Regions from separate parts of the Homo sapiens genome. Here regions 1, 2 and 4 are each linked to region 3. The links come from fine-mapping of genetic effects on gene expression. A gene starts in region 3. Each other region holds a variant in brackets. All regions are shown on one strand. Distances are between the middles of the regions.

Region 1 (8,104 bases), 68 kb before region 3:
TGTGTCTCGCTGTGTCACCCAGGCTGGAGTGTGGTGGCACTGTCTTGTCTCACTGCAACCTCCTCCTCCCACGTTTCATTGATTTTCCTGCCTCAGCCTCTGGAGTAGCTGGAACTACAGGCGTGCGCCACCATTTCCAGCTAATTTTTTTTTGTACTTTTAGTACAGATGGGGTTTCACCATGTTCCCCAGGCTGGCCTTGAACTCCTGACCTCAGGTGATCTACCCACCTTGGCCTCTCAAAGTGCTGGGATTATGGTCATGAGCCACCGTGCCCGGCCTTAATGGTTACATATTTCTGATGGATTGACCCTTACTGTAAAATGTCTTTGTCTCTATTAACAGTTTTTTTCTTAAACATTTGTTTTGTTTGATACTAGTATAACCATTATAGTTCTCTTATGGTGGTTTGCTTGGTATATTTTTGTTTTGTTTTTTGTTTTGTTTTGTTTTGTTTTTCTCAAGCTATATGTGTCTTAATTTGAAGTAGGTCTCTTTTAGAGAAGGTATGGTTGGAGCATGTTTGTGAATTTGTGTTTGTGTTTACTACATTCTGCCTGTCTTGCATTTAATGTATTTATTGATAATATAGGGCTCTTTTGCTGTTAATCTTTCTATCTCTTGTCACTTTTGTTCCTCTGTTCTTCCATTACTGCCTGTCTTACTGTTAAATAGATATTTTGTAGTGTACCATCTTAACTCCTATGTTTCTTTGACTTTATTTTTTGTTTTGTTTCTTAGTGGTTGCCTTGGGTATTAAAACTAACATTTTAACTTACTCCAATCTTTTAGTTTCGGTAGGATCCAAAAATTTCATTTAGTATGGCTTTGTCCCCTTCCCCTTGATTTTTGCCATTATTGTCATGCAAATTATACCTTTATACATTATGTGATCACCAAAAGGTTTATAATTCTTGCTTCATGCAGTTATTTTTTTGAGACAGGGTTTCATTCTGTTGCCCACGCAGGACACGATCACAGCTCAGTGCAGCCTCAACCCTCCAGACTCAAAGCGGTCCTCCCAGGTAGCTGGGACCACAAACATGTGCCACCACACCTGATAAATTTTTTAATTTTTTGTAAAGTTGAGGTTCTCAGTATGTTGCCCAGTCTGGTGTCGAACCTCTGGGCTCAAACTGATCTCCCGTTTTAGCTTCCCAAAGTGTTGGGATTACAGAAATGAGCCACTGCACCCAGCCCAGTTGTTCTTTAATTAGGAGATTTATACTGTCCTTTGTATTTACCTGTGTATCTTTGCCAGTAGTTTTTCATACGGATTCAGGTCAGTGTTCAGTGTTTTTTCATTTCAGCCAGGATTCTTGAATTTTTCTTGTTTCAGCAGGACTGCTAGCAATGAATTACCTCTTTTTGTTATCTAGGGAATATCCTAATTCCTCCTGTATCTTTGGGGATAGCTTTGCCAGATGAAGGATTCCTGGTTGGCATTCCTTTTCTTTGAACATTTTGAATATGCTCCCCCACTGCTTTCTGTCCTCCATGGTTTCTGATGAGACATCAGCTGTTAATTTATTGAGTATTGTATGTGATGAGTTGCTTCTATCTTGCTGCTGGTAAGATACTCTCCTTGTCTTTTTTCTTTCATCAGCTTGATTATGTTATTCTAGGTATGAATCTCTTTGAGTTTATTCTACTTAGAATTTATTGAATTTCTTGGGTGTCTAGATTAATGTTTTTAATAAAATTTATCGGGTTTTCAGTCATTATTTCTACAAATCTTTCCGTACCTTTTTCTTCTCTCCTTGTACTCCCATTATGTTTGTGGTGGCACACTCAGTAGTGCTCCACATGTCCTTGAGTTCTCAGCCCCCATCCCCCCACCCCCTTTTTTTTCATTTTCTCAGGCTGGATAATTTTAATTGATCTATCTTCAAATGAACTATTTTGTCTGCTTGAATGTGTGGTGGGACATGTGGTTAGTGAAACTTTATTACAGTTACTGTACTTTTTCTGTTTGGTATGTTGTAGAGTGTAGTATCTGATGGGAAAAAACGAATTTCTGTTTTTTGGTTTTTTTTTTTGCTAATTTCTATGGACATGCTTTTTGAGATAGTATTCCTATGTTTTCCTTCAGTTCTTTTGATATATTTTCTTTTAAACGTGTTCTGTAGTGGCTGGGTGTCATGGCTTCAGCCTATAATCCCAGCAGCACTTTGGGAGGCCAAGGTGGGTGGATCACTTGAGATCAGGAGTTTGAGACCAGCTGGCCAACATGGCAAAACTCCGTATCCACTAAAAATGCAAAAATTAGCCAGGCATAGTGAAGGGCGACTATAGTCCCAGCTACTTGGGAGGCTGAGGCAAGAGAATTGCTTGAACCCAGGAGATGGAAGGTACACTGAGCCGAGTTTGTGCCACTGCACTCCAACCTGGGCAGCAGAGTAAGACTCTGTCTCAAAAACCAAAATAAAATGAAAATAAATGTGTTTGGTAACTGATTTGAATTCCTTGTCTAGTAAGTCCAACAGCAGTGTTTCCTCAAGGATCATTTCTACATAGCTTTCCAGCCCTTTGCATGGGACACCCTTTTGTTTCTTTACAAGTCTTGTAATTTTTTTGTTGAAAACAGACAACTTTAAATAATATGGCATTTCCTGGAATCAGATCTTCCTTCTTCAGCAGAGCACATTGTTCGTTATTGCCCTTTTTTTGTTTAGTGACTTTCCTGAACTAATTCTGTTCTTTATAATAGTTGGCTACTGAAGTTCCTGCTTGGTTAGCCTTGTTGTCAGCTAAGATTGACGAGATTTTCTTAAACCTAATCTTGGGAATCAATTCAGCACTAAGCCAGGCAATTCACAGCCACCTTAGTCTTTACTTCCAAAGTTTTTTTTTTTTCTCTCTTTTTTTTAAAATCGAGACGGAGTCTCGCTCTGTCGCCCAGGATGGAGTGCAGTGGCACGATCTCGGCTCACTACAACCTCCACCTCCGGGGTTCAAGCGATTCTCCTGCCTCAGCTGAGTAGCTGGGATTACAGGAGCATGCCACCACGCCTGGCTAATTTTTGTATTTTTAGTAGAGACAGGGTTTCACCATGTTGGCCAGGATGGTCTCGATCTCTTGACCTCGTGATCTGCCTGCCTTGGCCTCCCAAAGTGCTGAGATTACAGGCTTGAGCCACTGCACCCGGCTCAAAGTTTTTCTTTACAGATTTTTTTTTTTTTCTTGAGATGGAGTTTCGCTCTTGTTGCCCAGCCTGGAGTGCAGTGGCACA[A/G]TCTCGGCTCACTGCAACCTCCACCTCCTGGGTTCAAGTGATTCTAATGCCTCAGCCTCCCGAGTAGCTAGGATTACAGGCATGCACCATTACGCCCAGCTAATTTTGTATTTTCTTTAGTAGAGACAGGGTTTCTCATGTTGGGCAGGCTGGTCTCAAACTCCCGACCTCAGGTGATTCGCCCGCCTCCCAAAGTACTGAGATTACAGGCGTGAGCCACCGTGCCCGGCCTTCTTTACAGATTTTTAGTTAGCCTGTATGTAGTTTGCTCCAACTGTAGTAGTCTTCCACCTCAGATAGGCAATAAGTTTAAAACAGTTACTTTCAAATGTTTTTTGTAAACACCTCATGCAGAAAAGGTTTTTGTTTGGGTCAGTTTTCAGGTCAAATAAATCCAACCTTGTCATTGTGTTCTCACACAGACTCCCTATACAGATGAAATAATGACAATTCACTGAGAAGGAGGCTTTGAAGATGTTTTAACCCTGTTTTGATTCACCTCTCAGGCTTCTGGTTTTCATTGTGATTGAGGGCTGTCAGCTTCTAAGCTGGCTGTGGAGCTGGAGATGGGAATAATAGGGCAAATTAATGTGCTAGAAAACTTGATAGTCTCTTGAATAAAAATTTCCCACTTGTTATAAGCCTTTGGTTAACTTCCAAAGTTCTGAAAAAGTTGATTCAGACACTTTTCTAGTTGCTTTTATGAAGGAGAGGAAGTCAGCCCATACCCTGTCGTTTTGCTTTATGAGAAGGTTTTTTTTTTTTTTTTTGAGATGATGTCTTGCCTCCAATTACCTGGGATTACAGGTATATGCTACCATGCATGCCTATTTTTTAAATTTATTTTTATTTTTAATTTTCTGTGGAAATGGGGCTTCACCATGTTGCCCAGGATGGTCTCAAACCCCTGAGCTGAGGCACTCCTCCTGCCTTGGCTTCCGAAAGCGCTGGGATTACAGGTATGAGCCACCACGCCCGGCCAGCATTATTTCTTTTTGTTGTTGTTTAAATAGTCTCACTCTATTACCCAGACTAGAGTGTAGTAATGTGATCATGGCTCACTCGTGGGCTCAAGCAGTCCTCTCTGCATCCTAAAGCGCTGGGGTTATAGGCATAAGCCACCTATGCTCAGCCTTTTTTTTTCTTTCTTTCTTTTTTTCTTATGAGGTCTTACTGTGTTGTTGTACAGTCTGAAGTACAGTGCATGTTCACAGGCACAATCATAGCTCAATGCAACCTTGAACTCCTGGCTTAGTCTTCCTGCCTGAGCCTTGTGAGTAGGTGGTCCTATAGACGCATGCCACCATGCTTGGCCTGATGGTCTTTTTGGCTGTTATAATTAGAGAGAAACGTGCCTCTAATACCTAGTAGTGTAGAAACCAATGATACTAGGCTGGGCGCGGTGGCTCACAGCTGTAATCCCAGCACTTTGGGAGGCCGAGGGTGGGTCACCTGAGGTTGGGAGCTCAAGACCAGCCTGATCAACATGGAGAAATCCCATCGCTACTAAAAATAGAAAAATTAGCCAGGCGTGGTGGCGCATGCCTGTAATCCCAGCTACTCGGGAGGCAGAGGTTGGGGTGAGCCAAGATCTTGCCATTGCACTCTGTCTGGGCAACAAGAGTGAAACTCCGTCTCAAAAATAAAAAAAAGAAACCAATCATACTGGCTAAACATTCCACAGTGCACAAGACTGCCTTGTACAACAAATAATTATCCATTCCAAAGCACTCTGCTCTATAAGCTCTAAATGTTCTACAGTTTCAAGTTCTAAAGTGTAACCTTTTACATTTATACATTTTAATCCATCTGCAGTGGAATATTCTGGAAAGTTAATTGCCTGTTAAAATTGCGCAAAATGTTTTTATTGTAAGAAGGCAGTTTACCTAACTTCCAGGTTTCAATTAATTTCTTTAATTGATCTATTAGCAGTACTTGTTGAAAAATTTAATAAGATAATGTATCCAAAGTATTTTGAGTCCATACTGATGATAATAAATGCCAGAGAAGGAAAGTTATTTCAACTAATAAATATAGAAGAATTACGATGGAGTTGTAATCTTTAATGTGTGTTAATAGTAATGGATATATGTTTGAAGAGCAGGATAATTATGTAGTTTGAAAATATCTCTCCACAAATTACATTGTAATTACAAAGGGGGAAAACAACTTCAGAAAAACCTGTCAGATACCATGTTAGTCTACTGATCAAAGTGATCACCATCTGAAACCTACATCATGTGTTTCATAAAATGCACTGAGAAGAATACAAGGTAATTTATTCTGTAAGGTTATAATACCTAATTTGAATTTAGAACATCAGACAAACTCAAATCAAGGGACATTCTACAAAACAACTGACTTGTACTTTTTTTTTTTTTTGAGGCAGGGTCTTGCTCTCTTGCCCAGGCTGGAATGCAGTGGTGCGAACTCGGCTCACTACAACCCCTGCTTCCTGGGTTCAAGCAGTTCCCTCAGCCTCCTGAGTAGCTGGGACGACAGGCGCACACTACCACACCTGGCTAATTTTTTGTATTTTTGGTAGAGATGGGGTTTTGCCATGTTGGCCAGGCTGCTCTTGAACTTCCTGACCTCAAGTGATCTGCCCACCTCTGCCTCCCAGAGTGCTGGGATGACAGGTATGAGCCATTGCACTTGGCCCTGAGTTGTACTTAAAAAAATAAAGTCAAGAAGAACACGTAAAGGCTAAGAAAATCTTTCAGATTAAATGACCTGAAGAGAGGTGACAACTTAATGCAATGGGAAAAATAGCTTTGAAGAGCATTGTGGGAATAGTTGGTATAATGTGAACATGGCCTATTTATTTTATCATTGTTAAGCTTCTGATGTTTGATTTTACATGGCTATGTAGGAAAATGTTTTTGTTCATAGAAAATATATAGTGAAGGCTGAGCATGGTGGCTTACACTTGTAACTCCAGCACTTTAGGAGGCTGAGGTGGGCAAATTGCTTGAGCTTAGGAGTTTGAGACCAGCCTGGGCAATGTCGCGAAACCCCGTCTCTGAAAAAAAACATTTAAAAATTAGCTGGGCATGGTCTGTATGCGTGGAGTCCCAGCAGCTGGGGAGGCTGAGGTTGGAGGATCATCTGAACTCAGGAGGCAGAGGCAGAGCCATAATTGTACCACTGCATTCCTGCCTGGGCGACAGTGAGACCCTGTCTCAAAAAAAGAAGAAAACATGTAGTGAAGCATTTAGGGATAAATTCATGGTATATCCAAACCAATGCTTCAGGGCGAAAAGTATAGAAATAATGGTTAGGTTAATAAGGCAAATGTATACCATTGGCGTGAGAAGCATTTGTGGGAGTTAATTGTAATATTCTTGCCACTTCTTTTATTTATTTATTATTTATTTATTTTTTTGAGACGGAGTTTTTCTCTTGTTACCCAGGCTGGGGTGTAATGGCACAATCTTCGCTCACTGCAACATCTGCCTCCCAGGTTCAAGCGATTCTCCTGCCTCAGCCTCCCGAGTAGTTGGGATTACAGGTGCGCGCCACCACTGCCCAGCTAATTAATTTTTTGCATTTATAGTAGAGATGGGGTTTCATCATGTTGGCCAGGCTGGTCTCAAACTCCTGACCACAGGTGATCCTCCACACCCGGCCAATTCTTGCCACTTCTAAGTTTGAAACTGTGTAAGAAATAAGAATTTATCCCTAAATAGTAAAGGTGAATATTTTAATTTACCATATTTTATTCTAAAGTGCCCATTTTATTTTTCTTCCTACTTTAACATTTCTGAAATGATGTGTCTCATTGGTGATGTGTCTTATATTACAATTGGTGGAATTACTTTTTTTGTTTTTGCATAGGACATAAAATATTAGTGTGGCTTACACAATTGAAGGCATTTTGGATTCAATGCAGTATAATATAATTACCATCTACTGCTTGGTACCCTGTTTTTCTAACCCATGGCACTGGTCTTTTTGGAACAGTTTCTTTTTAATTTAGTGGTTTGTTTGTTTGCTTTTGTTTTTGTGATTGGTAAAATATAGGTGTGGTTTTAAAGTCAAAACTCTAAAGCAAGATACATTTGGAGAAATCTTCCTTTGAACTCTGATACCTCTACCTTGTTCTCCTTTTCTCCTGTAGTTAGTCACTATCATTAATATTTTTGGGTTATCTTATATTAAAAACAAATACATACTTATTCGTATATTTATCCCTATCCTTCACTGTAGAAGAGATAATATGCAACTTGCTTCTTGATCTTATATCCTAGAGTTCACTCCATACAATTAGAGAGCTTCCTTATTTCTTTTACTTGCTGCATAATACTCCATTGAATGGCTGTTCTGTACTGTAGTCAACCAGTCTCCTACTGGTGGAAATTTGCATTGTTTTCGCTTTTGTATCACATACAGTGTTGCAGTGAGCAGTGTTTTGCATCCATCATTTTTACCAATGTATAATTGGACTACTAGAAGTGGATGTGTCAGAATAATAGGTAAATTCATCTGCGATTGTGTTAGGTATCGCAAAATTTTCCTCCATAGGGATTTTTCTATTTTGTAAAACCAGCAGTGTTATTGCATCTATTTCCCCACAGCCTTGCTAATATAGTATGTGCCTGTTATTATGGTGAGATATGGGACAACATGGAGATACGGTATCTCTATGAAGTTTTAATTGTTGTGGAGTATTTGGAATGCAGATACATTTGTAAATGAAGCTTCAGAGGACCTCTTGTTTCCTTAAATTTGAAATACTTTTAATTATTTTGAGCATTTTTGTGGAAACTAATGTTCTACTTGTTTCTAAAGTAAATAAGTAGACCAATACCTTTAGGAGTATAAGGCTCCCTTTTCTTTTTTGTGGTCTGCATTGCATAACAATAGGAATG
Region 2 (8,101 bases), 22 kb after region 3:
GGGCCTGGTGTATCCCTACTGCTTGGATCAGAGTTGGTGCTCAGTGATACATGGGCCACCACCCTACCCGACGCTACACCAGTGCCTGGTTGGAAAAGAAGCCCCAGAAATCTGGGACCCCGGAAATTGGGGAATCACCTTCCAACTGCACTATATAGGGGGTCTGGAACTGTCCAGGGAACTGGACCCTCTTATTTCTCTCCCTGTCCTTATCCTGATCTCCTAGGCCTGGGACAGCACTGAGGGTGGGGCAGGGATGGGGGCTCAATCTTCCCTCAGGATTCCCAGTTCACGGATGAGAAATAAGAGGCACAGGAAGGAGCAACTGACTGGTGCAAGTCCTCCTGTGGCCAACCCAGGAGGGGACCCAGAGTGCATGCTTCCACCCGCCTACATGCATTCCGCCTCCCCGGGTGGGTGGCAGGACAGGAGGATGCAAGGGACATTATTTCTCCAGCCCAGGCTCCATATCTAGGTATGGCTCCTTGATTTATGTCAAACTTGAACTTGACCAGTTCTGCTTTTTCCTTGGGTTGAGCCTGTGAATCCCTATGCCCTCACCAACCACACCACCACCCTGCATGCGCGCGCACACACACACGCACGCACCCCCAGCACATTCCCACTGTCTTAGGCAGCCATATTTGGATTCTGGCACTCCTGGCTAAAGACCCGGGCTGACTCAGTAGGCGCATCCTCCCCATGGGAAGCACATGCCTTTCTTCATGCTGTTCCCTCTGCCTAGAGTGCCTTTCCCCATCATATCCCTACAATGGGAGCAATATGAAAAACAATCCTTAATATTAATGAATGCTATGTTCCAGGCATTTTACATGTATAAGCTCATTTAGTCCTCCTAACTCCTCATGGAGGTAGGTACTATTATTGTCCTCATTTTGTAGCTGAGGAAGTGAGGCATACACAGGTGACATAACCAGCCCAAGGTATTACGACTGGTAAGTGATGGAACCTGGATTTGAACCCATGATGTCCAGGTCTGGAGCTCATATGCTCATGTGTGGACTCTATCATCTTTTTTTTTTTTTTTTTAAGACAGAGTCTCACTCTGTCGCCCAGGCTGGAATGCAGTGGCACGATCTCAGCTCATTGCAACCTCCGCCTTCTGAGTTCAAGTAATTCTTGTGCCTCAGCCTCCCAACATAGCTGGGATTACAGGCTTCTGCCACCACGCCCAGCTAATTTTTGTACTTTTAGTAGTAATGGGGTTTCACCATGTTGGCCAGGCTGGGACTCTATCATCTTGCTAACCCACTGATGCATGGATGAGTGGTTTAATCTCCCTACTGTCATCTCCCAGAGGACAGCGACCTGATCTTGTTCATTTGTCCAACCCTATCAGAGTCCAAACACACAAAGGCTTAATAACTGGTAAAATGGATGGAGGACAGGCCAGAAATCTCCACGGCTGACCTGTCCACAGAAGCCATAGGAAAGCACAGGATAAACATTTTTGTTGCTCAAATGCCACTGTTCCAATGTCAGTTATAGGCATAAAGCAGTATTCAAATGCACACCACCAAGGTGGTGAGGCCACTCTGGTACAAGGCTGTTTGACAGGGCTGGCTGTCAAGAGGCTTCCAGGTCAGTGAGTTTGGCCACAAAACTTGGAGGGGGCAGGGCCGGGTGCGGTGGCTCACGCCTGTAATCCCAGCACTTTGGGAGGCCAAGGCAGGCAGATCACTTGAGGTCAGGAGTTTGAGACCAGCCTGGCCAACATGGTGAAACCCTGTTTCTACTAAAAATTCAAAAATTAGCCGGGCGTGGTGGCAGGCACCTGTAATCCCAGCTACTCAGAAGGCTGAGGCAAGAGAATTGCTTGAACCTGGAAGGCAGAGGTTGCAGTGAGCCTAGATCGTGCCACTGTACTCCAGCCTGGGTGACAGAGCAAGACTCCGTCTCAAAAACAAACAAACAAACAAAAAATCGGAGGGGCAGATGCAGCCTCTGCACATTCCCCACCTCCTACAGGTTGGTCTGGGCTCCCTCCTTCCTCTCAAATCCTACCTGTGTCTCCAGTCTCCCCACCAGGTTTGCCGAAATCCCCTAAAGGGGACAGACTTAGTAGCACTCCCATTCTAGGGCTCAATAAGGAGAAAGAAAATACTATGCACTCAATGGAAAAGTGGGCGAAGGTCTGGAATAGGAATTCAGAGAAGAAACAACACAGGAAAAGCATCTGCTCTGCCTCACTGGCCGTCAGAGAAATGCACGTGAAACAATGAGCAACATGACCTGCTCAGACCATTGCTCCTCAGACACTCCTAGGGGACAAGAACTACATCTGTTTTGTTCGCTCGGATGTTCCCTGTGTCTATGACAGTGCTGGGCACAGGGCAGACACTCAACATTTCTGTTCAATCATGTAAGTAAATGAACGAATGAATCATTCTTCACACAGACCACAACTTACTAAAAGACTGATAATGTGCAAGGTTGGTGAGGTTCTGGGAAAGTGGGCACACACTCATGCTGCTGGCTGGATGGCAGTGGGTTCAACTTTATTTGGAGAACAACTTGGTAGTCTGTTAAATGCAAATATCTGTCAGTTCTGCAATTCTGTGTCCAGGTATTTATCCTAAAGAAAAACACCCATGTGTGCACTAAGAGGCAGTACACAAGGGTGCTCACTGCACAGCCGAGTGGAGGAGTACAATCTGGAAACCACCTCAGTGAGCACCAGGAGGATGGTGAAATAAATTATGGAACATCTGCACCCTGGAGTACCATGCAGCCATTAAATAAACAAGGCAGCTCCACTCAAACAGAGTGGGAAAGCATTCTAAAATATGCAATTAAGAAAAAAAGGCATGTCACCAAATAATGTGTAAAAATAATTCCATTTATGGCTGGGCACAGTGGCTTACACCTGTAATCCCAGCACTTTGGGAGGCCGAGGCAGGAGAGTTGCTTGAACTTGGGAGGCGAAGATTGCAGTGAGCCGAGATCACGCCATTGCACTCCAGCCTGGGCAACACAGTGAGATTCTGTCTCAAAATAATAATAATAATCTCATTTATGTAAAAATTATATGCATTGAACAGGTACATATATTGGCAACTTCCAAAAAAAAATCCTCAAATGATTCAGGGTAAACTGTAACAATGCTTCTCTCTGAGGAAGGATATGGGTTTAGAAGGGTATAAAAGGGAGATTCTTTTTTTAATCCTATACACCAGATTTTATCAAATCTAAGATATCACTGATTACAAGTGACACTAATTTTTATGTATCAATAAGAAAAAAAAACCACTGCCAGTTAAATGAAGACATAATACTTTCCCCCCTTTTAACTTATTTTGAAAAATATTTAGGCTTACAAAAAAATTACAAAAAAAAAAAACAAAAAACAAAAAAGCACAGAAACACAGACATTTCCCACATACCCTTCACTCAGCTTCCCCCAATGTTATCATGCTACAGAACCATAATACAATTAGAGAAACCAGGAAATTAAACACTGATACATACTGTTAAGTAATATACAGAACGTACATATATTTTACCAGCTTTCCTAATAATGCCTTTTTTGGGTCTAGGACCCAACCCAGGATGCCACATCGTATTTAGTTGGTATGTCCTCCTTGGCCTTCTCCAAATGGGACAGTTTATCAGCCCATCTTTTATAACCTTGACACTTTTTTTTTTTTTTTAGATGGAGTCTCATATTGTCGCCCAGGCTGGAGTGCAATGGCGCGATCTCGGCTCACTGCAACCTCTGCCTCCCACGTTCAAGTGATTCTCCTGCCTCAGCCTCCCAAGTAGCTGGGATTACAGGTGCCCGCCACCATGCCTGGCTAAGTTTTGAATTTTTAGTAGAAACAGGGTTTCACCGTGTTGGCCAGGCTGGTCTCAAACCCCTGACCTCGTGATCCATCCACCTTGGCCTCTCAAAGTGCTGGGATTACAGGCGTGAGCCACCACACC[C/T]GGCCAACCTTGACACTTTTGAAGAGTACTGGCCAGTTAGTCAGTAGAATGTCCTCGCTTTGGGTTTGTCTGTTGTTTTCTCATGATTAGACTGAGGTTATACATTTTTGGCAAGAATACGACAGAAGGAGGTGCCCTTCTCAGTTTGTATCAGCAGGCACATGATGTCAATCTGTCTTATTACAGAGGACGTTAACCTTGATCCCTTGATAAGGAGCTCTCTGCCAGGTTTCTCCACTGAAATGTTACTATTTTTCCCTTTGTAAGCAGTGTGGGAAGATACTTTGACACTATGTAAACATCCTATGTCTCATCATACTTCCCCACCCCCTCCACCCCCCTTACCCCTGCTAATTTTAACAACTATTGATTCTTGCCTACAGCAATTATTACTTTGGTGGTTGCCTAATGATAATTTTCTTTTTTTTTTTCCTGCTGAGGAAAAGAAGATAATTTTCTATTTCCATAATCTCTTCTACACTTATTGGAATTATCCTGTAAGAAAGAGTTGTCCTTTTTCCTCCTTTATTCAATTACTTATTTATATCAATAAGGACTCATGGATATTTATTTTACCCTGTGGGTTAAAAGCCATTGCTATCATTATTTGTTTCATTGTTCAAACTGGGCCAGGCTTGGCCATTGGGAGTTCCCTTAAGGTGGCTCTTTTGTGCTTTCAACATGTACCCATTATTTTTTGAGTTTCAAATATTCTAGCCTCATTACATGTTCTAAACTCATCTTGTACTTTCTCTGCCTCAACCATGAAATCAACCATTTCTCCAAGGAGACCTAGTTCCCTTTATTGGAGAATGACGTTTAGAAATCAAGATCTGGACACCAGGTGTGCTCATTGCTACTGGGGTGTCATTGGTCTAGGCCCTCTTAGCAGGCAGAGCTATGAAATGTATGCAAGACACTAACACACACACATACATATATATATATATATCACATATATATATATCACACATATATATATCACATATATATCATATATATGGAATCTGGAATTTATACTGATCCCTTTAACTCTAATTCAACACCACAGAGTGCATTCTAGCTTCCCCCGTTTGATTGCAATTGTTTTTCTCCAGTGGTGAGAAACCTGGCTCTCATCCATAATATTTTTGCTTATTTGTTCATTCCTGGGATACATATAAAGTAGTGTCAGAACTGCTACCCTTATGATGAGTTCCTGTCATTCAGGGGTTTTTTTGTACTTACTGAAAGAACTCTTTTAGAATATATTAGATCCAGATTTTAAAAAAGCATCTATCACTTTTGTAAATTTTTAAAAAGGAAAATATAATTGAAATAAATTGTTTAAGGTATTCCTTTTCACATTTCGAGTCCAATGTCTCTTAATCTCTCTATCATGGAGTTTTTAATGCTGTGCTATTCCACACAGCCTGGGCTTCTCCAGCATCAAGGATGCTCTACTACTATCTCTGGGATTTCCTTCTGAGCTGCTGACATCCACTCGCAAATTCTGATGTTCATGTGATGGCAGTAACAGCATGAGGCCCCCCTTGCCAACAGAGACTGTATGATGCATCCCAATCTTAGAGATGTTAAAGTATGAAAAAAAAGGTGCATCTTAGAAAGGACATAACACAGCGCTTTCATAAAGTAAGAAGGTGATGTACAGCACCAACGTGTAAACTCTGCTTCTCTACACAACATGGCTCCAGGTGTTAAGCACGGACATTACAATAGACACAACAGGCCTCTAATTCTAAGACCAAGGGCAAGGCCAGATGGAACTAGAATTCCAATAACACATTCCATTTAGGCAGCTTCTATAGGGAACCAGTGAAAGAGTCCTACTGCAGCAGAGACTGCTAATTATCCCCCCATATCTGTTCTCCCCTTCTTCCTTAATAATAATCCCCATATTTTAGATGAGTAGGTGGATGATGGGAATAAAATTTGTTTATGATGACGTGATGTTCTGCCAGTGCGAGGTAAATGGAAGCATGTTACTTTCAGGCAGTGTTCTTAAAAGGGGAGACATGGCTGGGCGCAGTGGCTCATGCCTGTAATCCCAGCACTTGGGGAGGCCGAGGCAGGTGGATCACTTGAGGTCAGGAGTTCAAGACCAGCCTGGCCAACATGGCAAAACCCCATCTCTGTTAAAAATACAAAAATTACCCAGGTGTGGTGGCCAGCACCTGTAACCCCAGCTATTTGGGAGGCTGAGGCAGGAGAATCACTTGAACCTGGGAGGCAGAAGTTGCAGTGTGCCAAGATTGTGCCACTGCACTCCAGCCTGGGCAACAGAGTGAGACTCTGTCTGAAAAAAAAAAGGGGAGACATGCCATTCTTTGACTCTTCCTCCTGCCTCCTGGCTGGAATACAGATGTGATGGCAGGAGCTTGAACAGCCATTTTAGGCTCAAAGGCAGGATTCTAAAGGTGGCATAGTAGTGATATAGAAATAAAGAGTCAAGGTACCTGAGAATCATGAAGCCATGATTTGGGAATCCTCTATTTTGAGATCCTGGTTATGAGAGAGAAAAAAATACTTTTATCTTACTTATTATTACCATGGGTTTTCTGTTACACACAGCTGAAGCTAATCTAAACTTGGGATATTTTTCTTGGAGACCCACCCTATCGTGCTAAAGGAAATCAAGGAAAAAGGAAAGGGTGGGGCTTTCCCAGAGAAAAACAGGGAAATGCTAGAGCAAACCTGCAACTTCCTCTCTCCAGCAGGCAGCATAATCCATGATGCCATTCTCTTCTGGCAGTTTAAACCAGTGAGCCAGCCCCTCCTAACCCACACCTCACAAGCTCACAATAATTATACTGACATGGGTAACCATGACCTACATTAAAAGGTTAAAAGCAACTGGCACTTTTTGTCACGAATTCTCGCATTTCTTTTACACGGGTGCCTCACTCAATTCAGCTGTGTATCTTTGCCCAAGCTGGCAAATTTCCCAGATACACATATCCTGGATCTTTGTGCAAGATTCAAACAGGTAAACTGAGTCAATGAAACTTCTCTGGCACAGGAGTCTGCAATACAGTCTCCAGTAAAGAGAGAGCCCGAGGGGCATCTTTCTTACTGGGCATTTTTGTCACGGAAAGCCCCTTACTTCTCTGAAATGCCTAATTTATTAGCATTTGAGGAATGACATTCATCTGGCAGAGAGGGACTCTGTTCCAAGCAACTCCCAGAGCTTTCCTGCCTCAAATGCAATGTCTGCAGAAGGGGCTACCTGCATTGGTCCCCACCTGACACCAAGGTCCTTTCTCCTAACAGCACTGGGTTTCCTTTTGGGAAACCTCCCTTCCCCATTCTCAGTACATGTGGTTTGGGCCCGAATGTCCATACCCCAGGAGTGGCCCAGGCCTAAGTCATTTATTCATTCACCAGATACTGATTTGGCACCTACTGTGTTCTAGGACTGGAGATAAAATACTGACCATTACAGACAAACATATCTACCTTCGGGAGCTTTCTGGGTGCTGGAGGGGAGGCAAAAAATCAACAAACCTAAGTAAATTCACAGAGTGTCAGACGACCTAAGCAATGCAGGAAGCAGCTTCACAGGAGGGGAGAGAGAGGGATGTGAAACAGGGTGGTAAGAGTGAGAAGCCACCTGCTGAGAAGGGGAGGCAAGCAAGACTTGAAGGAGATCCAGGAGCGAGCGTTGGGATGTCCGGGAAGGGCACTCAGGGCAGGGGGAACAGCAAGCGCAAAGGCCAGGAGGCAGGCGCCTGCATGTTTGAGCAAACGAAAGGAAGCCGGTCAGGCAAGCAAATGAAAGGAAGCCAGCTCACGCCTGTAATCCCAGCACTTTGGGAGGCTAAGGCAGGTGCACGGCTTGAGGCCAGGAGTTCGAGACCAGCCTGGCCAACATGGTGAAACCCCGTCTCTACTAAAAATACAAAAGTTAGCCGGGTGTGTGGTGTGTGGTGCACACCTGTAATCCCAGCTACTTGGGAGGCTGAGGCAGGAGAATCACTTGAACCTGGGAGGCAGAGGTTGCAGTGAGCTGAGATTACGCCACTGGACTCCAGCCTGGGTAACAGAGAGAGATTCTCTCTCAAAAAAAAAAAAAAAAAAAAAAAAAAGGGAAAGAAAAGAAAAGTGAAAAAACCAGGGTGGCTGGAGCAGAGTGAGCCAGGAGGGGAGGAGATGAGGA
Region 3 (8,104 bases):
GCTGGGCGGTTCCCCTTGGGGGAGCCCCGGATCACTACATGCAGAAGGCCGTAGGGTGTCTCGATGTCATGTTCCTGAAGGGGAGAGACCGTGCTGGACACTCTGGGCAGCCTCCGCTCTTGGCTCCTCTGGGGAATGAGGTGACGCAGCCTGGTACCTGTTAGGCCTGTGGTAGAGCCCCTACTTGGGGCATCCTGTTCTCATCACCCCAAGAAGCCCCCAGAGAGGACTGAATGGATGGAACACCCCTTCTCAGGGCTGTTCAGTACAGAGACAATGTGAACTGATCTGCATGGGGAAGGTCTGGTCCTCTCTGCAAACCAGCCACTGGTTTGTGCTGTCACTGTCCTCCGCCCTTGAGGGTCCAGGGAGGCTGTTTTTCTCCATCTTGCAGCAGCCCCTCCTGGACAGCTCTGCCTCCCCAGCCCAAGTCCCTCTCACACTCAGAACTCTCAGGCACTTCCTGCTGCTGCAGGGGAACGGCCTCAGTGGTCCTGCCTGGAATCCTCAGAAAACACCCCGTGCCAGCCAAGCCTAGCCCCGACCCCGGCACTGCCCCTGGCTCCCACTCTAAGGCTCTTGCGCATGTGGTTCCTTCCACCTTGAACGCCCTTCTGTGTGAGCCCAGCATCCTCAAGGGCTCCCTTCAGGCAGGCCCGGGTCAGACCCCCCTCCCCATCCCCTCTAGAGGCCTTCTGCAGAGCCTGCTCTGGGATCCTCTTGAGTTCACACCTTTGGTTTTGCTGCTCAAGGTCATTACTTCCTCAGGAAGACCTGGTTCTACCCCTTACTTGTGACTGAGCATGTCATGTTACTTCTCTGCTGTGCCTCAGCCTCTCCATCCAGAACCACCTCACAGGGACTTTGCGGGAACTAGACAAGCCAATGTTTGTGGAGCATTTAGCACTTGGAGAAAGCCCCAGAAAGGGGGCTGTTATGCTAGGGCATCCCTGAGCCTTGGGAGAATGCCCTTCTCGCTGTTCCTTTGCAAACTGGGCATTCTTAGCCACTCGGATGGGCAAACTTCAAGAGGGGCCATCTGAGCTAAATAAACCGATCCTCTCTGCATCATTGTGAGCCCTGGGAACCACGTGAGTGGCCCAGTGAGTTGGAGGTGGGGCTGGGGTCAAGGACATGAAAGAAACATCAAGCGACTGAGCACCTACTGTGTGCCAGGCTTCCTGCATGTTACCCAAGAGACAGGAACCCTAGTCCCTGTTTTGCAGGTGAGGACACTTTGGTTTAGAAAGAACCTGAGTTCCTGCCTCCAAATGGGAAAGGAGATTTAGACAGCAGAAGACAGCTGCTCAGGGGCCAGCATTAGTGGGTCTGGTCTCAGAGGACCACTGTCCAGGCCTGTGTCTCCAGTGTGGAGTGACAAGCTGGCACCAACCTGGTGGCCAAAGGCTCTACCCTGGAGAACACTCTTTGACTTGCAGGCCCTTTTTATTTCCCTGTTGTCCTCCAGGAGAGCCCAGGTAATGAGCCTTAGGGTGAGCCATGCGGCTGATTGCACCACCCAGGGGATGAGGAGGCCACACCAGGGCTGAGAGGGGACAGACCACACAGCCCCTCCCATCCCAGGCCTATCCTTTCTCGGGGCCCATCAAATCCAGGAACACTTCCCCGCCACTGACCACTGACCCACAGTTTTCTCATTTACTTCCCACATAGGCCCAAGCCATAGAGGAGGAAATTGAGGCTAGGAAAGGGAAATGACTTGCCCAAGGTCAATCCCAGAGTAGGGAGGGCAGGCCCTGCCAGGTGCCAGTCTCAGGGGCCAGGGCGGTGCACTGAAGGCTGCATGTTCACAGGAGATCAGGTTCCACCCGAGGGAGCTCCTGACCAGGCAGCCCTTTCACAGCCACCTGTGAGTTCTCTCAGCTCTGGAGGGTGGGGCTGCAAAAGAACTGCAATGCGCCTCCTGCTGCATAAAGGACAGTTATCCTCCTGGGGTCAGACGTCGAGAGCCCAGGGCGGTGCCTTCCAAACCCAGACCCGCAGCGTGCGGGTCCGCCTGAGGGGTGTGAGGGGTGTCTGCTCTCTGCTGCTGAGGAGGCCCCACTGTCTTCTCCCAGCCCTGGTGTGGCCGCCCCTGTCCCCATCCCCCTGAGGTGACGTGATCAGGCTCTACTAGGGCTCATCTCCCAGGATGGGAAGGGCTGGGGCTGGGCCTGGGCGTCACCGGGCTACCTGTCCTACGAAGTCCAGTGACCTTCGCTGAACCCTGCTGCGAACCTCCCTAACGCCTTCTCTCACCCTCTGCGGAGAGCTCAGGACTCAGTTCAGCCTGATCGAAGCCAAACATCCCCGTCCCTTGGAGCGCTGCGCAAGGGCAGCCCCACAAGGGCCACAGCGCGGTGCACTCTGAGGCCCCCAACCCTCAGGGCCGAGCACTCCCATTGGCTCTGGGTGACGTCAGAGCCGGCCCCGCCTCCAGGTAGGCGCAGGCGGGAAGCACTGCGGCAGCAGGGGAGGGGGCTGTGGCGGCTCCTCTCGGTCGGTCCGTCTCCCCTCGCCTGTGACCTTGAGCACTGGAGGGGAGTGGGGCTTTGAGCCGGGCTTTGCGCCGGTGTGGGAGTTGGTGCTGGTGGTGCTGTGGTTCGGCCTGTCAGCCGCATCAATAATTCAGGGGACAGGGTCTGCATGGGCGGGCAGGTGCTGACGTCGTCACCTCCGTGCGTGCGGGGTGACCTATCGTCTGCGGAACCGGCAGGGCAGGCGTGTGGGGCCCGGGGGTGGGGGTGAGTCTGCCCCTGCCTCTCCCTCCTGAGGAAGAATGGGGCCGGGGTACCTGATGCCCCGGCGAGAGGAGGTGCCCTGGGCTCCACCTGGGGTCCCCTAGCCCTGCCAGCTTCACGGCTCCAGCGTTGCCTTCCCCCACCTACAAAATAAGGCAGGCAGGCAACCCCTCCTCGTTCCTCCCCAGCAGGGACCCCTGCCTGAAAGGCTGTCATTCCTGTGTGGCCCAGACCTCCTTGCCTCTGCCCGGCTGGCGCAGCAGAGCCCTGGGAACTGTGAGGTGGCTCCTAAGGAAGAGGCCGCCTGTCCTTCCCATCACACTGGCGCAGCCATCCAAACAAGCTAGACGGCCGCCCACTGGGACGGCAGCCCCTGCACGCACAGACCCGGCACGCACACTGGGCACACAGCCTCGGGGGCTCACCAAGGACACCCCCGCCCCCTGGCCTGATGGCCCCAGGCATCACCAAGGCAGACACCATCCAAGCGCACACCAGAGGGCACACGGTCAGAGGGACATGCAGGCACTAGCGCCCGGGTCCACACGGGCAATGCAGCCAAGTCAGACAGTGCCTTCCACGTTCCATTTCCTGCAGATATGTCACCCACCCCCCAACCACACGCTCCCCCCAGCCCCTGCTATGGGCTCTGACTAGCAGCTGCCCCCAGCCACTCCTGCAAACAGGATCACCAGGGAACCTGGAGCACTCTGGCCGTGTCTCAGTGACCCCAGGGTGAGGCTATTTGAAGGCCGGGCTGCCACCAGATGTGGGTTGAGGGGGGCACTTCCTCCCTGCGGTGGGTCATAAGGATGCACCATCCTCCCGGCCCACCTTGATGCCCGCAGCGCCCTCACTCACCCCATCCCAGCACTCCGGCATCTTGCCGAGGGAGGGAACCCGCCTCTACCAGGAAGGACAAACAAAGGCCTGAGTCACTCGGGTCCAGAGGGCGGGGGCAGCTCGAGTGGGAGATGGTCGGCTCTGTGATGGGGCACAGCTCCTGGGCCATTTATACAGGGATCCTGGCCCAGCCTAGCTAGCCCCTCCTCCCCGCAGGGTTTCTGAGCAGCCACTCGCTTACCAGGAGCCCCAGCTCCCATATTGGCTGCTGGGAGACAAGCCTGGCTCCAATTGGCTTCTGAAGTCCTCCTTGCCCCAGCCCTGTCACTGCTCCTCCCACCCCAGCCACACATCATCCTTGATGGTCCCCAGCCCCTGCATCCGCCCCCAGCACATAGGCACACGCCAACAGCTGCAGCTCACACGGGATCCTCCGAATACAAAAGCCGAGACCACACGTACAGACTCACCCATGTCAGGTACACACAGGGTCGTCACAGACATGCACAGCTTACCAATGCGGGGCAGGGCAGGGTGCATGGGCACTGCCCAGACAGCTAGAGCCCTTGACCCACACCTTGGGGAGTATGGAGGGCCCGAGAGGGCCCCAAGCCCAACATCTTGGGGACCAGACCCCCACGCCCAGCCTTCCCATTAGGAAGGTTCCATCGCTTAACCTTGTGGAGGCCTGGGGAGCTGCTGCTTTCTGGGGCAACTTGGGTTATCACCCTGCTTCAAGGGGCTGCTCCTTCTCCACCCACCAGGGATGAAAATCCCACCTTGCCCACGCAGATACAGGGGGTTTCCCCACATGCTGAAAATGGAGTTTGGGGGCCGGGGGCCAGGGGCCCTGGGCAGATAGCAGGGCCAGGGGTATGGTCAGGCACACACCAGCTCTGCCCTCCCCACCCTCACCCTGCTGCCAGGGGCTCCAGACCACCAGGGAGAGGAAGCGGGGCTAGGAGGCAGCTTGCTGACATTGACATGCCCACCTCCTGTAGACCCACCCGGCCCTCGTTCCCAGAGGCAACCAGTTTGGGGCTTGGCTCTCGGGTCTCTGGGGAGCAGAACACTAGGTCTATCTCAGGCTCCGTGCCCTGTTCTCCTGGGCAGCAAGGATCTGGGTGGCGAGCTCGCCCGAGGCCTGCAGGTGGAGTGAGCAGAGGAGAAGAAAGGCCAAGAAGTGCACAGGAGGAGAGGAAATAGGCCAGAGAGGGAAGCAGAGGAGGGGGCCCAAGGCTGGGAGAGCAGGAGCCACAGAGAGAAGGGGGCTGCTGCGTGCCTATGCTCCCAAATCCATGAAGATTATATGTATTATCGTTGCAACTGCCTGTGCAGTAGGCACTGCTGTTTCTCCCATTTATATATGGAGGCTCAGAGAGGTTGACTGACTTGCCCAAGGTCACACAGCAAAGAAGTGGCAGACCTATGAGTGGGATCAGGGTTTGGCTGGCAAGACCTGACCCTGCCTTGTCTGGCCACGATAACTGCACAACTGCCAGAAAAGGGGCCAACAGTTTGGAGAGGCACACAGACTGCCCCATTTCTCTCCTGCCAGGGCCTGGGCAAGGGTGGGGTCAGGGCACAGAGCCTGAGATAGCCCTAGTGTCCTGCTCCCCAGATACCCGAGAGCCAAGCCCCAAACTGGTTGCCTCCAGGAACAAGGGCCGGGTGGGTCTACAGGAGGTGGGCATGTCAACGTCAGTAGCTGCCTCCTATCCGGCTTCCTCTCCCTGTCTTGCTGAAGAAGGAACACGCCACTCACCCCAGCCCATGCTGATGGCCCTGCATGCTGACTGGCTGCCCTTGGAGAAAGTGGTCATCTCTTCATCTCTGGGTACCTGCTGACCTGGTCGACACCTGCTATGTACACTATTGCTGGTCATGTCCTCTGCCTGGGGGCACCTATTCCATCTCTCACCTCTTACTCTGGAGGCCTAGGGAAGACTGACAGGCCCTGTGCTCCCCAGGGCAGCAGGAAGTAGAATGGGGAGTCCCCCTGGCCCGTCACCTCCTGGCCATGCTCCCCATTCCTGCAGGCACTGTGGCACAGGAAGAGGCTTGGAAAACTGAGGCACAGCCCTGCCCTCTGCCCACAATGCCCTCCCATGTCCCCCAAGGCCCCACCCAATCCTACGCCCACTCCAACCTCTGACCCCTGAGTGGCCTCTCCCCACCTTTGGACCCAGGTGACAAGCTGACCTGCGACACTGCCCACTCCAAGCCACAGCCTCCATGACTGCTCAGCTGTCTGCAAACCCACAGACGTGGGTTTAAGTCCTTCCTGGCCCCCTACCAGCCGGGTGACCTTGGGCAAGATTTTTTTTTTAACCTCTCTGTGTCTCAGGCTTCTAATTGTAAAGCAGGGACTGTGTGCCTTTCTCACCAAGCTGCTGTGAGAATCAGAAAAAACTGCAGAAATCACTCTAGATCTGACCCCACCCCTGCCCAGGTCCTGGCAGGGGAGAAATGAGGCAGCCTGTGTGCCTCTCCAAATTGTTGGCCCTTTTTCTGGTGGTTGTGCAGTTACAGTGGCCAGACAAGGCAGGCTCAGGTCTTGCCAGCCAAACCCAGGTCTTGCCAGCCAAACCCTGGTGCCACTCATAGCTCTGCCACTTCTTTGCTGTGTGACCTTGGGGAAGTCAATCAACCTCTCTGAGCCTCCGTATGTAAATGGGAGAAACAGCAGTGCCTACTGCACAGGCAGCTGCAAGGATAATACATATAATCCTCATGGACCTATGAGAAGGGATGAGGAAACTGAGAGTTGGAGAGGTTAGGTAATTTCCTCACTTGGCTAGTAAGCAGCGGCAGCTACTAGTACCCCAGCACTCTGGGTGGGCCTGAGGTCTCAGAATCAAGAGTGGCAAACACTATGTTCAAATGTCCTCCATGTGCCAGGCTTTCTTGGAGTGCTTTACCCATTCTCTCTATCCCTCTTTTTTTTTCTTCTTCTTCTTTTTTTGGAGACATGGTCTTGCTCTGTTGCCCAGGCTGGAGTGCAATGGTGCAATCTCTGCTCACTGCAACCTCCGCCTCCCGGGTTCAAGCCATTCTCCTGCCTCAGCCTCCCAAGTAGCTGGGACTACCAGCGCCTGCCACCACACCTGGCTAATTATTGTATTTTTAGTAGAGATGGGGTTTCACTATATTGGCAAGGCTGGCCTCAAACTCCTGACCTCAAGTGATGCACCTGCCTCAGCCTCCGAAAGTGCTGAGATTACAGGTATGAGTCACCACACCCAGCCTTTATCCTCTTTTTGGAAAATATTTTTAAGTATGGAAGGCTTCACGAATATGTGGGTCATTCTTGTACAGGGGTCGTGCTCATCTTCTCTGTATCATTCCAATTTTGGTATATGTGCTGCTGGGGCGAGCACTCATTTTCTCTCTTAATACCCTCTTTACAAATGAGGCAAATAAAGCACAGGGAGGTTTGGTAACCTGCCTAACATCACACAGCTAGTGGGCACAGAGCCAGGAACCACACCCAGGCAGTTTGGTGCTAACTCCACACTCTGGTGGCCACTCGTCACGGTCAGCTGAGTGTCCATATGAGGGGCCCATGGGCACCATCGCCTTAGAAACACTCGGGAGGTCCGTGCTGCCTGTCTCCCTGAAAATGCGGTAGACAAATGGAGTGACTTGGGCTGGAGGTCACATGCTTGGAAGTGGCGGGGCCAGAACCTAGGTCTGTCTGGCTCATGTTAGTCCCTCTGCTATACTACCTCCCCCACTGGCTGCCCCCACGGAGGCAGGGGACAGTGACAACGCCTGCCATAGTGAGCAGGAGATAAAATCCCTGCCAGGTCTTGGCCCAGATAACGACCATCCATTCTTGTGGCTGCTTTTCTAAAACAAAAAACGAAAAAAATGCTGCCTCCATGTGGTGTGACAGGAGTGGACAGGAAGGTGCCTTTTAATGCAACCTGCCTTTTACCAAGCAGAGGATCCTGAGAACCGGGGTCCCACACACCCTGGGCCCCGCAACTCCGGGGCTGCAGCTCAGAGGGCTCAGGGGCCAGAGGCAGCTTCGCAGCAGCAGTTGGGAACCCAGAGGTATGGTAGGGTCTCCTCCACGACTCCAGGATTCCCCTCTGCCTGTCCCCCACACCGTGGGCCTGTGTGCTGGGGCTGGCATCAGCACTGTTGGCGTCGGCCTCCCACACTGTGGGACCAGTGTGTTGAGGCACCGGCTGGCTGCTCTGAGATTTTACTTGGCCAACCCCCTCCTCCAGGGCCCATTTGCCTGCATAGCTCATCCTCATTTGCAGCATGGAGGACAAAGAAAATCCCCTGGTGAGCCTGCCCTGATCTCCGGCTGTCCCTTCCCACCAGCCTGGGCCAGCTCCCGACCACTTCCCTCCCATCCCACCTCCTGGGCTCCCATTCACTCCCCACTGCCGGAACCCTAGCCTCTCCTTCCAGCTCCAGAGCCCTTTGTGCTTGGAGATGGCATTCCCGGAGGATCTGAGCACATGTACATTGGCTGCCCTGAAGTCTCCCCTCTCGTCCTTGAA
Region 4 (8,104 bases), 170 kb before region 3:
CGCAAGTTCACCATCAGCCTCACTGCCTTCCTCTTCATCCTGCCCCTCTCCATCCCCAGGGAGATTGGTTTCCAGAAATATGCCAGGTTTGGAGGCCCCAGCCTGGGTCAGACAGAAGCTATGATCCTGGGCAGCTGTAGACCCAAGGGCTCCTGGGGAACCCTGCTCCTCCATGCCACCTCACCTTGGGGAGCAAGAGTAGGCAAGGCAGGGCAGACCGGGGCTTGCAGGGTTTCAGATAAGACCATCCTTTTCTGTCTCCATCATAGAAAAAGGATGCATCCATGAGAGATTCAGTTCTAAATGTCCTTTTGCATCCATGAGTAGTTCAGTTCTAAGTGCCCTTGTCAAAGAAGGAACAGGTGGTATCTGGGCGGTGAAGGCAGCCTCCTGGCATTCCCTGGGAGGAATTTGGGTCTTTGAGACTGTCAGCCTACCAGCATCTTACCTGCAGCTTGGCATGAAGGAAGGAGACTGGTTTCCTGTCTCGGTGTCTGAAAGGCTGTGGGATTCTAGGCTTCCCCGTCTGTAAGTGCAGGGGCCATGCTCCGCTCTCTCCAAGGCTCCCATAAATGTTGACACAAAAGTGTCTGTACTCTCAACCCTCTTACCTCTGGCATCTCTTAGTTCTCAAAGGCCAGGCTCAGAGGATGGTCTCCCACAGCCCCTGCCCGGGCTGGGCTGCTCTGATTCAAGTCCCAGGTGTGCTTTGGAGCTCTGCTCTCTGCATCGTCTCTGAGCCATGGAGCTGAACCAGCACTTCCTGATGGCCAGGAATGCTGATCAGGTCCCCTGTTGGCTGTCCAGCTCCTTCCTAGCTGTGGCAGGTTTCTCTGAAACTACTTCTCAGGCGTTTCCTGAGTCTGCTTGGCATAGTCTCCGGTTCATTCAGTGGACACTTGTGGTCGCTAGAGCTGAAGGTGGATGTCCCTAGGGGTGGAATCAGATAAGAGGCAGCTGGGGATGAGGACACTTAGTCTCTCCTTCCCGGCAGCTTCCTGAGCGTCGTGGGTACCTGGTACGTCACAGCCATCGTTATCATCAAGTACATCTGGCCAGATAAAGAGATGACCCCAGGGAACATCCTGACCAGGTGAGGGTGAGGGCCCTAGGAGACATGGGGAAGAAGCCACCACTTGGGCCCCAGCAGGTGCTGGGTCAGGAACCAGAAGGCCACACAGGTGCTCTTCTCAAGGCTCATGAGCTCATCAGGGCTGACTTGGTCATTGTAGGAAGGAGGAAAGAGCCCCTGCTCTGATGTTACTGGAAGGAAGAGCAAGAATCAGAGACAGGAGGCACTTTGCCACCTACATCCAACAGATGAGCCAGTGTGAGGCTAGGCCTTGGGTTGTGGAGGAACCTGAGGGTGGAATCCCAGGGTCGAATTGCCTGTGTTTCCAGCATCTGCTTATCTGTAATTTCTGTATCTTTGAGGGTGAATTTATTATTAAAAAAAAAGGGGGGGGGCCAGGCACAATGGCTCACGCCTGTAATCCCAGCACATTGGGAGGCCGAGGCGGGCGGATCATGAGGTCAGGAGATTGAGACCATCCTGGCTAACACGGTGAAACCCCGTCTCTACTTAAAAAATACAAAAAAATTAGCCGGGTGTGGTGGCAGGCGCCTGTAGTAGCAGCTACTCGGGAGGCTGAGGCAGGAGAATGGCGTGAACCTGGGAGGCAGAAGTTGCAGTGAGCCGAGATCGCGCCACTGCACTCCAGCCTGGGTGACAGAGCAAGACTCCATCTCAAAAAAATACAAAACAAAACAAAACAAAAAAAACAATTTCCTTCTTTTGAAAGGAACAAACCAGTAAAGCAAAAGCCCCAGTCCAGGAGCCAGGAATTCTGGATTTTGGCCCCAGGGGGGCTTTTCTGAACCTCCAGGCCCCATCCCAGAGGGCCCTGGGACATAAGGATGCCTCTTCTCCCTGTTCCCAGACTTCTGTGGGTTGAAGCTATGGAATCCCAGTTGCTGGAGACCATGGTGGGCTGACCGAAGAGTGAGGGCGTGGGGTGGGTTGTGGCTCTGAGGGGTTCCCAGGTGGCAGCACCATGTGTGTTTGTTCACAGGCCGGCTTCCTGGATGGCTGTGTTCAATGCCATGCCCACCATCTGCTTCGGATTTCAGGTGCCAGTGCCAGTTGCAAGGTCCCTGCTGTCCCCTTAGATCACCCCACCCTGGGATGGAACCCAGCAAGGAGGAGGAACCCAGGCAGAATGGAGGAAATCCTGGGGGGAAGGATGGAACAGGGGCCTCAGGACTTGCCCCTTGTTCCTGGGGTCTTTGTTCCCAAGGTACCTTCCTCTGGAAACTGGGGTTGAGGTCATTTCCCCACCATGACGGTGCCCTTCACCTGGACAGTGCCACGTCAGCAGTGTGCCCGTCTTCAACAGCATGCAGCAGCCTGAAGTGAAGACCTGGGGTGGAGTGGTGACAGCTGCCATGGTCATAGCCCTCGCTGTCTACATGGGGACAGGTGAGTGCTCCCCCCCCCCAAGACCTGGGACTAGAGTGCTCTCACTTCCACAGGAGTCCCTAGGTCCTGGGGCCTAGCTTTCCTGGGGACAGCCCTGCATTCCCAGCATGACTTGTATAGGCATTGGCTTGAACTTGGCCTGCCTGGAGCCTCCTCCTGCCAAGATGAGAGTGGTGTATTCATCCATTCATTCACCAGTTCTAACTTGGTGCCTAGGAAGTGCCAGGAACGGTTCTCAGCATGGGGGATGCCATGGAGAGAGACAGAACTGGTCTTGCCCTCATGGAGTTGACATTCTTGTTGGAGAGACAGTCATGCAGGAGTAACTGGGGAATCAGTAAGGAATTCCAGATGGTGGCAAGCATCCTGATGACAGTGAAATAGGGAAGGTGTGTTTTGTTTTATTCTATTTTATTTTGTTTTGAGAAAGGGTCTCAGAAACTGTCGCCCAGGCTGGAGTGCAGTGGCATGATGATAGCTCACTGCAACCTCAACCTGCTGAGGTCGAGTGATCCTCCTGCCTCAGCCTCCAGAGTAGCTGGGACTACAGCCATGTGCCATTGTGCCCAGCTAATTTTTTTTTTTTTTTTTTTCTAGCAGAGACAAGGTCTCACTATGTTGCCTAGCCTGGTCTTGAATTCCTGGGCTCAAGCAATTCTCCTGCCTCGGCCTCCCAAAGTGCTGGGGTTACAGGCATGAGCCACCAACCCAGCCTAAAATGGGGAAGGTATGAATGGGACTGGATGGGTGGCTTTGGGAGTGGTTCACAGAAGGTTCTTCTCAGAGAAGGCCCAAATGATGAGAAAGAGCCAGAAGAGGAGGAGCTGGGGAAGAAGGGTTCCAGGCAGAGGAACCACAAAACACCAAATCACTGAGGCAGGGCCAGGAAGAAAGTCTATGTGGCTGGAGTGGTGTGTGATGGGGGCAGGTGAAGGCAGTGAGGCCAGACAGGCACTGGCAGCCAGATCCTGTTGGGCCTCGAGGGCTGCTGGGAGTCATCGAGGAAGTGTTTTAAGCAGGGGGGTGGTTCGGGGAAAGGTGGCTCTGGCTGCCGTGTGGAGAGTGGTTGGGGTGAGGGAGCAAGTCTAGGAGACCCTGGAAGAAGGATCCCCTGAGTTCTTTCCACGGATAGACCGTAGGAGCTGCCTGGGCCAATACTGTTCTAGCCTCTGAATACACAGCCAGGAACAAGAGAGGCAAACAGCCAAATCCCTATTCTCCTGGGGCTCATGTCCTGGCTGGGGAGACAGAAAATAAGCCTGTAAAAATTAATTACTATTATTATTGTTATTATTTTTATTTGTATTATTGTTTACTTAAAGACCAGTGTGATAGTACAGTTAAAAAAAAATTAGAAAGCGATGAGGCCAGTCACAGTGGCTCACACCTATAATCTCAGCTATGGGAGGCCAAGGTGGGAGGTTCTCTGGAGCCCAGGAGTTCAAGACAGGCTGGGCAACATGGTGAAACTCCATCTCTACAAAAAATTTAAAAATTAGCCAGGTTATGGTAACATGCACCTGTGGACCCAGCTACTTGGGAGGCTGAGGTGGGAGGATCGCTTGAGCCTATGAGATCAAGGCTGTAGAGACCCATGATCATGCCATTACACTCCAAACTGGGCAACAGAGTGAGACCCTGTCTCTAAAAAAGAGAGAAATGAGTGTTAGGGGACAGGCCCAGTGGATCATGCCTGTAATCCCAACACTTTGAAAAGCTGAGATGGGAGAACCGCTTGAGGCCAGGAGTTCAAGACCAGCCTCGGCAACATAGTGAGACTCATCTCTACAAAAATT[A/G]AAGAATTAGCTGGGCGTCCGCCAGGCATGGTGGCTCACGCCTGTAATCCCAGGACTTTGAGAGGCCAAGGTGGGTGAATCACTTGAGGCCAGGAGTTCGAGACCAGCCTGGCCAACATGGCAAAACCCTGTCTCTATCAAAATTACAAAAATTAGCCGGGCGTGGTGGTGGTGCCTGTAATCCCAGCTACTCGGGAGGCTAAGGCATGAGAATCACTTGAACCTGGGAGGCCGAGGTTGCAGTGAGCCAAGATCGCGCCGCTGCACTCCAGCCTGGGGGAGAAAGTGAGACTCTGTCTTCAAAAAAAAAAAATTAGCCAGGCATGGTGGCATGTGCCTGTAGTCCCAGTGACTTGGGAGGCCAAGTCAGGAGGAACTTGAGTCTAAGAATTCAAGACTACAGTGGAACTATGATTGTACCACTTCACTCCAGCCTGAGTGACAGAGCAAGATCCTGTCTTTAAAAAAAAAAAAAAAAACGGCCAGGCACTGGGGCTCACGCCTGTGATCCCAGCACTTTGGGAGGCCCAGGCAGGCAGATCACATGAGGTCAGGAGTTCGAGACCAGCCCAACCAACATGGCGAAACCCCATCTTACTAAAAATAAAAAAATTAGGGCTGGGCGTGGTGGCTCACGCCTGTAATCCCAGCACTTCCCGAGGCAGGCGGATGACGAGGTCAGGAGTTCGAGACCAGCCTGGCCAACATAGTGAAACCTCATTTCTACTAAAAATACAAAAATTAGTCAGGCTTGGTGGCGGGCGCCTGTAATCCCAGCTACTCGGGAGTCTGTGGCAGGAGAATCACTTAAAACCAGAAGGCAGAGGTGGCAGTAAGCTGAAATCGCACCACTGCATTCCAGCCTGGGTGAAAGAGCAAAACTCCATCTCAAAAAAAAAAAAAAATTAGCCAGGTGTGGCGGCAGGTGACTGTAATCCCAGCTGCTTAGGAGGCTGAGGCATGAGAACCCAGGAGACCAAGATCATGCCATTGTACTCCAGCCTGGGCATGACAGAGCGCGACTCCATCTCAAAAAAAAAAAAAAAAAAAAAAAAAAAAATTAGCCGGGCATGGTGTAATCCCAGCTACTCAGGAGGCTGAGGCAGGAGAATCACTTGAACCTGGGAAGTGGAGGCTGCACTGAGCCGAGATCGTGCCACCGCGTGCCAGCCTGGGCAACAAGAGTGAAACTCCATCTCAAAAAAATAAAAAAGAAGAAGGCTGGGTGTAGTGGCTCACACTCTGGGAGGGTGAGGTAGGAGGATTACTTGAGCCCAGGAGTTCAAGACCAGACTGGGAAACGTAGCAAGACCCCATCTCTACAAGAAAATTAGCTGGGTGTGGTGGCATCTGCCTGTAGTCCTAGCTACCTGGGAGGCTCAGGTGGGAGAATCGCTTGAGCCGAGGAGGTCAAGGCTGCAGTGAGCCATGATCACACTACTGCGCTCTAGTCTGGGTAACAGGGCAAGACTCTGTCTCAAAAAAGAAAAGAAAAATAAGACAGCGTGATGTGAGAGAGTGCCTGGGGTGGGGGTCATTGTAGATGGACTGGCAGGAAGCATTCTCTGAGGAAGGACATCTAAACTGAGACCCAAATGATAAGGAGATGGCATCTGAAGGTCTGCCAGACAGAACAGTCAGTGCCAAGGCACTGAGGTGGGAATGTGCTGGGCAAGTTCAGGCTCAGAAAGCTGGGGGCTGGAGGGCTTCCAGCGATGGGGGATCTGAGAAGTCAGGGAGGGAGGCATCTGATCGGAGCCCCATCTCCCACTCTGAGCCTCCGTCTAAGTGTCCAGAGCTGCTGCTGCAGCCTCCAGGCTGATGTTGCTCCTAGGAGGAGTGGACAGTCCACCCCACTACCCTCCCAGGGTTGCCCTGACCCAGTTGTCCCTGCCCACAGGCATCTGTGGCTTCCTGACCTTTGGAGCTGCTGTGGATCCTGACGTGCTCCTGTCCTATCCCTCGGAGGACATGGCCGTGGCCGTTGCCCGAGCCTTCATCATCCTGAGCGTGCTCACCTCCTACCCTATCCTGCACTTCTGTGGGCGGTGAGCCCCCTTCCACTCCCCAGGGCCCCTCCTAGCCCCTGTGAGCGCTTCCAACATGGTCCTTTGGCCTTGTGTGGACCCCATCCTGTAGAAGGAGAAACTGAAGCCTGTAGAAAAGAGTCGGTGCCTAGGATGGGTCCCTACATATCCCAGGCCAGGTGTCAGAAGCGCCCTTTGTCCTGGGGTCACCAGAACATTCCGTGAGTCCTGTAAGAATCTCTATCCATGGCATGGCACGGTGGCTCACGTCTCTAAACCCAGCACTTTGGGAGGCTGAGGCAGAAGGATCGCTTGAGCCTGGGAGTTCAAGACCACCTGGGCAACCTAGTGAGACCCCATCTCTACACAAAATAAAATAAATAGCCAGGTGTGGTGGGATGCACCTGTGGTCCCAGCTACTCAGCCACTTGGGAGGCTGAGGCAGAAGGATGGCTGGAGCCCAGGAGTTCAAGGCTGCAGTGAGCCAAGATTGCACCACTGCACTCCAGCCTGGGTGAGAGAGCCAGACCCTGTCTCAAAAAAACAAAAAACAAAAGAATCTCTATCCAGATCCTTTCCTGAGCTTTCACATGGACACCCTCCCCTTTGGATGCCCCAGACAGTTCCTTTTAAGGAAAAAACAATATCAGTTTCCATGTGATGTAAAGCAAAGTGCTAAGCTCTCGACATTCACCGTCTCTAGTCCCTGTGGTAAACAGAGTGCTGGTGGCCCATTTTACAGAAGAGGAAACTGAGGGTCAGGAATGGGGCTTTCCCCGCAGTCTACCCAGTTAGGGGTCTGGCTCCTGTGAGCTAGAGGTGGGGAGCTGCTAGCAGCAGGGGCACCTCTAAGCCCTTCTCCATGTGGGCAGGGCGGTGGTGGAAGGCCTGTGGCTGCGCTACCAGGGGGTGCCAGTGGAGGAGGACGTGGGGCGGGAGCGGCGGCGGCGAGTGCTGCAGACGCTGGTCTGGTTCCTGCTCACCCTGCTGCTGGCGCTCTTCATCCCTGACATCGGCAAGGTGATCTCAGTCATTGGAGGCCTGGCCGCCTGCTTCATCTTCGTCTTCCCAGGTGCGGACCCCTGGCGCCCCATCTCACAGCCCCACAGCACAGACTCCCAGGGCCTGCCTAGCCTCAGCTCCCTACTTGCTCAAAACATGCAGGAGAGAGTAACCACCAGCACTAATTGATCACCTGTCTCGCCTCTGTACTAGCCCCTATCCAAGCATTATCTCCTGGAAAGAAGGTATAGTTGTGATCTCCAGTTTACTGATGGCACGTGGGGCTCAGAAAGGGTCACAGACTTGCCTAGAGCTTAACAAACTCAACTAGTAACCTTTTCCATCCCACGCTGTCTGGGTCCAGAGTCTATTCTTTTAACCATTCATTCAGGTGTCTGCTGCTCCTTGACTATGAGGGATCTATCTGGCTGGTTCAGCCCATTACAGCCCAGAGGGCAGTGGGGTCTGGGGTGGCACCCTGACACAGACATCAGGGAACCTGGGTTCCAGACACAGATCTACCGCCAGATCCCTGGAGAACTGTCCTGTCTGCCCAGCCATGAGTTCCACCCTTTTCCAGCTTGTCTCTATCCAGGAAGCCACCCTGAAAGCCCCAGCTGCTTTGCTTGGAGCAGGGGAGCCAGATCTGCTGGGAAGTGTACTAGGAAGACCCCTGGGGTTGGGCCACCACTGAGTCACCATTGAGTGCTGTCCCTTTAGCTGAGTCTAGCATGCTGCCCAAGGGGTCTTGTCAGATGCCAGCCTGTCATGGGAGAGCAGATGCCAGATGACCCCAGCAG

The links. PIP is the estimated chance that this variant, and not a neighbour inherited with it, causes the effect.
Region 1: its variant is fine-mapped to the expression of NDRG4 in thyroid (GTEx, PIP above 0.99).
Region 2: its variant is fine-mapped to the expression of NDRG4 in spleen (GTEx, PIP above 0.99).
Region 4: its variant is fine-mapped to the expression of NDRG4 in fibroblasts (GTEx, PIP above 0.99).

Annotation. Positions count from the first base shown.
Region 1 is chr16:58,563,451-58,571,554 of GRCh38, reverse strand. The region is part of intron 16 of CNOT1 (CCR4-NOT transcription complex subunit 1); the gene reads left to right. Among named protein-coding and RNA genes, the nearest start is that of SNORA50A, 7.6 kb to the right of the region's middle. The variant A/G (reference allele first, on the strand shown) is at 3,234.
Region 2 is chr16:58,473,958-58,482,058 of GRCh38, reverse strand. It overlaps a transcript of NDRG4 not described here. Among named protein-coding and RNA genes, the nearest start is that of NDRG4, 22 kb to the left of the region's middle. The variant C/T (reference allele first, on the strand shown) is at 3,946.
Region 3 is chr16:58,495,768-58,503,871 of GRCh38, reverse strand. It overlaps NDRG4 (NDRG family member 4), which reads right to left and starts at 3,729. Exons shown (of 15, transcript NM_001242835.2): 1 at 3,603-3,729; 2 at 1-74. The coding sequence starts at 3,623. It also overlaps the pseudogene RNU6-103P. RefSeq lists enhancers at 1,778-1,827, 1,420-2,236, 2,237-3,054, 3,055-3,871, 7,130-7,685 and 1 more and silencers at 3,751-3,810, 3,821-3,900.
Region 4 is chr16:58,670,315-58,678,418 of GRCh38, reverse strand. It overlaps SLC38A7 (solute carrier family 38 member 7), which reads left to right. Exons shown (of 12, transcript NM_018231.3): 5 at 1-86; 6 at 995-1,093; 7 at 2,073-2,130; 8 at 2,365-2,479; 9 at 6,176-6,323; 10 at 7,175-7,374. Among named protein-coding and RNA genes, the nearest start is that of SLC38A7, 10 kb to the left of the region's middle. The variant A/G (reference allele first, on the strand shown) is at 4,276.